Linked DNA regions of Homo sapiens. The protein of the gene in region 2 purifies or fractionates together with the protein of the main gene of each other region. This does not show direct contact. Each region holds a gene or a part of one and is shown on either strand. Other genes may lie near its edges. The genes, in order: SEPTIN9 and NIM1K.

The links.
Region 1: the proteins of NIM1K (region 2) and SEPTIN9 purify together in Homo sapiens (affinity purification with mass spectrometry; one large-scale study listed by BioGRID and IntAct). This does not show direct contact.

The regions. Positions count from the first base shown.
Region 1 is NC_000017.11:77,494,300-77,497,910, reverse strand, and holds part of SEPTIN9 (septin-9), read right to left. Parts: intron 597-3,611; coding exon 545-596; intron 1-544.
Region 2 is NC_000005.10:43,195,225-43,199,038, forward strand, and holds part of NIM1K (serine/threonine-protein kinase NIM1), read left to right. Parts: intron 1-3,814.

The DNA.
Region 1 (3,611 bases), on a different chromosome or scaffold from region 2:
CTCTTGATAACATTCCCATCATCCATGCCAGCTGCTTGCTGAGGAAGAACCTGCCCAGGCCAGGGCCCACACTCCAGGGACCACCCACCCAGCACCCTCTCCATCAGGGCTTCCCCTCCTTGCCTGGACTCAAGGGAAACAAGGAGAAGCCTCAGCCAGGTGAAAGGGGTAGGGGTCAGAGGCCAGTGGGATCGGAGCTGGAGACGCCCCACGCTGCCGGCAGGGCCTGCACATGAGGCCTCACTGGGCCCTTAGTGGCCACCGGGCAGCTCTAACGGGCCAGACCACAGTGGATCAAAGCTCAGCCTTCCCATCCAGCCAACTTCGCAGGGGTTGAAAAGGATCTTCACTGCCTGCTTCATTTCCCAGTGGGTTTTCTTTTTCAGAAGATGGGCTTCCAAGATCTTCCCGAGGGCAGGGCAGGCAGGTGGCAGGGGGCACCCACTCTGCCCAGGGCTTCGGCCCCACACCCACTGCCCCCACCCGCTGTAGGGCCCTCTTAGGGGTGAAGCCGTCAGCCCCACCCAAGCACCCTGTCTCTCACCTGATGAGAAGGTCCCGCAGGTAGGCAAACTCACAGTGTGTGGTGTTTTCAACTAGGAGAGGAGACAGGAGGGGCTTTAATGTCCCAGTGGAGAAACTCTGCCCGGACCCCACCTCTCTCCCCCTGCCCAGAAATGCTGGTGCCAAAAGCAGAGTCTGAGGGCAGCCCCATGGGCAGGAGGGCAGGGGAACCACCTGCTCTGCAGCTGAGTATAGGACACCTGGCACTGCCCTCAGTCTGGGGGATACTGGAGTGACCAGCACCAGCTCCTGCTCCTGGACAGCTCAGCTCCTGCTCTCCAGAAAGTTCCTGGCTAATGGGAGATGGCACAGTGACCAGGCCAAATAGGAGCATGGAAGGAAGCCACAGTGGAGAAGCCAGGGCAGTGGGCCCCCGCACCACTGGGGTGACCAGGGAGAGCAGGACGTCCCAGCAGGGGCCTGAAGACAGGCAGGGGGCTGGGCTGCTGGGAATGGGATGAAGCAGGAATCGGAGCTGGGATTTTAAAGAAAACCTGTGGCCCACAGGGTGTTACCCCCACGGCCCCATCCACCTTGTGTGCGCTCAGAGCACACACACACAGGGACACACACAGGGGCTACGTACTGTGGACGACCATTCACAAGCTCAAGAATCAGCAATGCTAAACATTGCTCAGGGACATGTGCACTTCACACAATACATACAAGCCCAAGCTCGGGACAGTGGCCACTTCTCAGGGAGACTGGGCAGGAGACCACGGGCACCCACAAGTGCCCTCGGGCTCGAGCTGGTGGCCATCTCAGAGTGGTCATTTTATTGCTGTGCTTCGTAACTCCTATATGAACACGCGGTGCCTGGCATGTGTAACTGTTATATAACAGAAGGCCTTTTAACAAGGAGGGCAGTGAACGGCATCACTGGAGGTGGGGAGCCGGGCAGGGAAGGCAAATAAAGACACCCGGTGCCCTCCCATGTGATGAACTTCGTCTTCACACACCTGCAAGTGTCTCTTGTGATTCCTTTGTTATCCCCATTATCTTACGAAAATGGGGCGTAGACGCTGGGCACCACGGCTCACGTCTGCAATCCCAGCACTTTGGGAGGCTGAGGTGGGTGGATCACGAGGTCAGGAGTTCGAGACCAGCCTGGCCAACATGATGAAATCTCGTCTCTGTTAAAAATACAAAAATTAGCCAGGCCTGGTACCAGGCGCCTGTAATCCCAGCTACTCAGGAGGCTGAGGCAGGAGAATCACTGGAACCCAGGAGGTGGAGGTTGTGGTGAGCCAAGATCACGCCACGGCACTCCAGCCTGGGCAAAAGAGTGAAACTTCGTCTCAAAAAAAAAAAAAAAGAAAAAGAAAAAGAAAAGAAAAGAAAATGAGGCATAGAGAACGCAAGAACTGTGTCTGTCTCAGCTCCACAGTGCATAAGGCTGGAGCGGGATGCAGAACCCATACACCTGGCTCCAGGCTGCCCCATCGCAGAGCCACATGGCTTTTCCCCAAGTTAAAAATGTCTAGTTTTTACTTGGTAGGCCAGCAGGCAGGGCCGGGGCCTCCACCTTGCCCAGCCCTCAAGTGCTCTCAGTGCTATGCCGGTTGCCTTTGCCTAGGCCCTCCTGCCACGGCCCTGTGTAGGGCGGTGTCCACACTAGAACCTCCTGCAGACTGACCAGCAGCACTCTCATCTAACACTGACGGGCAGCGAGAGCCGGCAGGAAGAATGGGGCTCTCAGGCTGGAGTTGGAGTGTGTGATCGCCACTCCCTGGCTCGGGCAAGTTACTCTCATTCCCTCAGTTTCCTCATCCATAAAATGTGGATAATAACGTCACCCGCCTCTCAGGGACATGAGGATTAAATGAGTTCATGGCGTGATCAATTACACCCCACATTTCTATTGACAATACTTGGGGTGGTTTCTAAGGATGGGAAAGATACCTCAAGATGCTGTTCACCAAGTGGGAGGCAAGAACAAGGCACAGCCCTTACTAGTCCGGGTGTCAGGTCAGCTATGAACTCATGGGGCCCCTGATATAAAAACCCAGCAGTGCTGAAGGCACATTTCCAGGGTCCTCATATAAGACTGCTGGAAAGTGGGCCCCACCACCTCACAACTGTCCTGACAGGTTCCAGACTCTTCCTCAGCTGGAGCCAGTGGTGCTCAACAACGCACAGGTCAGAGAGGTGCGGGGACCTCTCTCTTGTGCATTTCCTGACAGTTTCTGTCACCGGCCACCTGCGGTACTCAAGGTTGGCCACCAGGGTGCAGCAGAGGCACGCCCATAGCAAAGCCGCCGGCCCGTCCCAGGCCCATCCATCCCTAACTCTCCCAAACCTGCCTTTCATAAAAAGTTTCCTAAACAGCAAGAACTCTTTGGGCAGAGAGGAAGAGAGGAACTGCAGGCAGAGGGGCCAAGGGGAGGCAAGCCAGCCTGACACCACAGGCGGATACTGGAAAACACCCAGGCTGCACCCAGCTGGGCAGCTCCCGCAGGGTGGGCCCGGCAGGGGTGGTGGTAGGGGAGGAGTGCAGACAGGGGAAAGGCCCGTGTGCCTCTCCACACCCTCCTCCAGGCATGAACTCCCATCTCGAGGGAGTCTGGTGCAGGGCTGGAGCTGTAGATTCTAGAGCCGCCTCCCGTTCTGGGTCCCTTGGCAGGTTTTCTGCTCACAGCACCTCTTCAACTCTGCAAGGAGGGTGGGTGCGGGGAGCTTCGGACATGAAACGAGATAACCCATGTCTAGCCAGTGGCACAGGAGTGTCTGATGCCTCCTGGTAATTGTCATTATGACCATTTTTTTAGAGCAACAGCTTCCCAAAAAGCTCTGTGGTCTTTGGGACAGTCTCTCAACTCACTAAAATCTTGGCACACTGCACCCACTTTGTGGATGATGAAAACTGAGGCCCTGGAAGATTAAGAGACTTGTGCTTCCTGCTCTACTGGGCCTTTCAGCCAAGTGCTCTCCCAGAACAAAGTGGCTTTTCCTGCTGCATTTCCCTCTGCACCTTCCCCTCTTCCATTCTAATGAGAAATGAAGGGACAGAGAGAGGAAGGGGAAGGAAACGTTCGGGCCCATCCCTC
Region 2 (3,814 bases):
TAATAGTCTACAACTTGAATTAACCACATCATAGTTCTTAAATTACTTTCTCTCAAGAACTTCAAGGTTAGCTTAGCCATTATTATACAGCATCCTGAGGAATATTAATCAGTTTTACAGATGGACAAGTTGTGTTCAAAAGCCAAGTGATAGGTCGGTGCCGTGGCTCAGGCCTGTAATCCCAATACTTTGGGAGGCTGAAGCAGAAGGACTGCTTGAGCCCAGGAGTTCGAGACCAGCCTGGGCAACATGGTGAGACCTTGTCTCTATAAAAATTTTTTAAAAATTAGCTGGGTGTGGTGGTGCATGCCTGTAGTCCCAGCTACTGGGGAGACTGAGGGAGGAGGATTGCTTGAGCCTGGGAGGTTCAAGGCTGCAGTGAGCTGTGATTATGCCACTGCATTCCATCCTGGGAGACACAGAAAGACTCTGAATCCAAAAAAAAAAAAAAAAAAAGTGATTTCAGCTAACCACTTGGAAAATCGAGACAAAAATCTAAATTGTCTGACATGAGCATTATGAATATGAGCATTAGCCAAGACTTAAGAGAAATTCAGGGCATGGATAGCGGGAAGAATTTAAGATTAGAGAGCAAAATAAAACTGTTAAGGGGAAAAAACTGTAAGGAGAAAGCAGATTAATAGAAAGAAAGTAAAAGCGAAAACATCAAGTGAAAAGAGGGTTGCACAGAAGGAAAACGAAGTTGCAGAATAGGAAACTAAGAAGAACTCCACTCTTCATCTTCCACAGAGAACACTGATGGTTTTCCAGAAAGCAGTCAGTACCCTATTTAGCAAAATCGTGTGACTTGGGAGGCCTTAGCGGCAGATCTTAGTTCATTCTGACTCCCTGCCACCCATCCAAGTGGTGTGGGCTGAGGCAGCTGTCTTTTCGGGTCTCCTGAACTAGCTGCTCATTAGATCTTTTCTCCCTAATCCTAAAGCCATCAAGAAGCTTTCTGTGTCTCTATTTGTTGGAATTATCTAGTTGGGATAATATATGGATACACTTGATTACATAATTGCACTGAAATTTTTCTTTTTACTTTAAAAAATTGTTCAAATTGTTATCATCACAATGCATTCACCTAATTTTATGAGAGTATATTAAAAGCTTATAACTGGCTGGGCGCGGTGGCTTACGCCTGTAATCCCAGCACTTTGGGAGGCCGAGGTGGGTGGATCATGAGGTCAGGAGATCGAGACCATCCTGGCTAACACAGTGAAACCCTGTCTCTACTAAATATACAAAAAAAAAAAAATTAGCCAGGTGTGGTGGTGGGCGCCTGTAGTCCCAGCTACTCGGGAGGCTGAGGCAGGAGAATGGCTTGAGCCTGAGAGATGGAGCTTGTAGTGAGCCGAGATCGCGCCACTGCACTCCAGCCTGGGCGACAGAGCGAGACTCTGTCTCAAAAATAAATAAATAAATAAATAAAAAATAAAAGCTTATAACTAAAACAACAGTCCCAGTCTCCAGAGGCAATCATTTTGAACTCTTGGCTGTTTGATCACTTACCTCCCTATGTCCAAATAATTAGCTTATGTTGCTGTTTTTTCTTTTTTTCTTGAGACAGGTTCTCACACTGTTGCCCAGGGTAGAGTACAGTGGTGTGATCATGGCTCACTGCAGCCTTAAATTCCTGAGTTCAAGCAATCCTTCCCCCTCAACCTCTTGAGTAGCTGGGGCTATAGGTGCACGCTACCATGCCCATGCCCAGCTTTTTTTTTTTTTTTTTTTTTTTGGTAAAGACAAGGTTTCACTATGTTGCCCAGCCTGGTCTCAAACTCCTGGGCTCAAGCAATCCTCTCACTTTGGCCTCCCAAAGTGCTGGGATTACAAGCATGAGCCACCATGCCTGGCCACTGGTTCTTGATTTATCAATTTTGGACAGAATCTATTGACTTATTTATTTTTATGTTTTATTTAGAGGCAGGATCTCACTCACCTAGACTACAGTGCAGTGGTACAATCATAGCTCACTGCAGCCTAGAACTTCTGGGCACAAGTGATCCTCTCATTTCAGACTCCAGAGTAGCTGGGACTACAGGCATGCACCATCATGTCCAGCTAAGTTTTTTATTTTTGTAGAGTTGTCGGTGGTAGGGGGGGCGGGCCTCTCTATGTTGCCCAGGCTGGTCTTGAACTCCTGGCCTCAAGCCATCCTTCTGCCTTGGCCTCCCAAAGTGCTGGGATTACAGGCGTGAGCCACCACGCCTGGCCAAATTAGTTCTATTCTTGGCTAATAAAATACACCTTAGTCATTTTTAATCATGAAGATTTTTAAAGAGCCTTTTAAACTTTTTGGAAATTTGAAATGTAGCCAAATACTCCCTCAGATGTAATCAACAGCGCCAGCCCTTGAGCTCCTACAGAACACAGAGGTACTGATTTTTCCACCCTTTATACTGCCTCAATTTCCATGATCCATACTCCATACCCCCTCTCCCATTTTACCATTTCCCTGACCTACATTTCTCTATCTTTCAGTACTTGCTGAATCACACCTGGAAATTCCTTCAGGCCTTATCTCCTTCCAGATGTTCTCTTTTGGGCCCCACCCTGTCTGTACCTATCTCTAGTTTAGCCTTTGGCCATTATATTTAGACGATCTGTTTATGCATCTACCTTGCCCCACTAGCTGTAGATTTAGTTATATCTACATTGTTCCTGGGGGTAACTTGTACACTTAAACATGGAGGACGGAGCTTAAAAATAATGTTTGTTGAACTGAACACGTCATCTTGATATTGAAGGAGTATTCCATAGTAGAGTAAGAGGGGTAGCAACCTCACATTGCTTAGAGTAGGGGTGAGGGCAAGGAAGTAGGGGGAAAACATAATCTATTTCTTTTCTTTTCTTTTTTCCGATGGAGGAGTCTTGCTCTGCACCCGCACCTGGCCAATATGATTTCTTTCTTTCTTTCTTTCTTTCTTTCTTTCTTTCTTTCTTTCTTTCTTTCTTTCTTTCTTTCTTTCTTTCTTTCTCTTTCTTTCTTTCTTTCTTTCTTTCTTTCTTTCTTTCTTTTCTTTCTTTCCTTTCTTTCTTTCTCTCTTTCTCTCCTTTCTTCCTTCCTTCCTTACTTCCTTCCTCCCTTCCTTCCTTTCTGTCTTTCTGTCTTTCTTTCTTTCTGTCTTGCTCTCTCTCTCTCCCCCTTCCTCCCTCCCTCCCTCTCGAGCTCGCTCTCTTTCTTTCTTTCCTACTTTCCTTCCTTCCTTCTTTCTTTCCTTCTTTCTATAGTGAAAACTGTCTTTATTTTTATTGCCTTTTATTTTCAACAATGATTACTTGAACTTAAAAAAAAAAGAGCGGACTTTATTAAGTAATGATTACTGAAAAGCCAAACCTTTCCAGCCCACTTCATATTGTCTTTTAACCATTTCAGAACACGATCTATTTCTTATCCTCCTACTTTCTAGCAGCATCTGTTTAGAGGGGATTGCCTGTGGCACACACAGCTCCTGCTCATGAGACAAGGTGAAGAAGCCTCATCTGTTTTGTGTGAAGCACAGACCCTGAGGTCAGACAGTCTTGGGCTTGAAATTAAACTTGGATGTTAATTGCCTGTATGGCTTTGGACAAGTTACCAAGTCCTTCTGAAGTTTAGTTTCTTCATCTGAAAAATGAGGATAATAGCAGGCACCTTTTAGGGCTGTTGTAAAGATTTTTAAAAATATGTATAAAGGGCCAAGCACGGTGGCTCACACCTGTAATCCCAGCACTTTAGGAGGCCAAGGTGGGTGGATCACCTGAGGTCAGGAGTTCGAGACCAGCCTGACCAATATGGAAAAACCCCATCTCTACTAAAAATACAAAA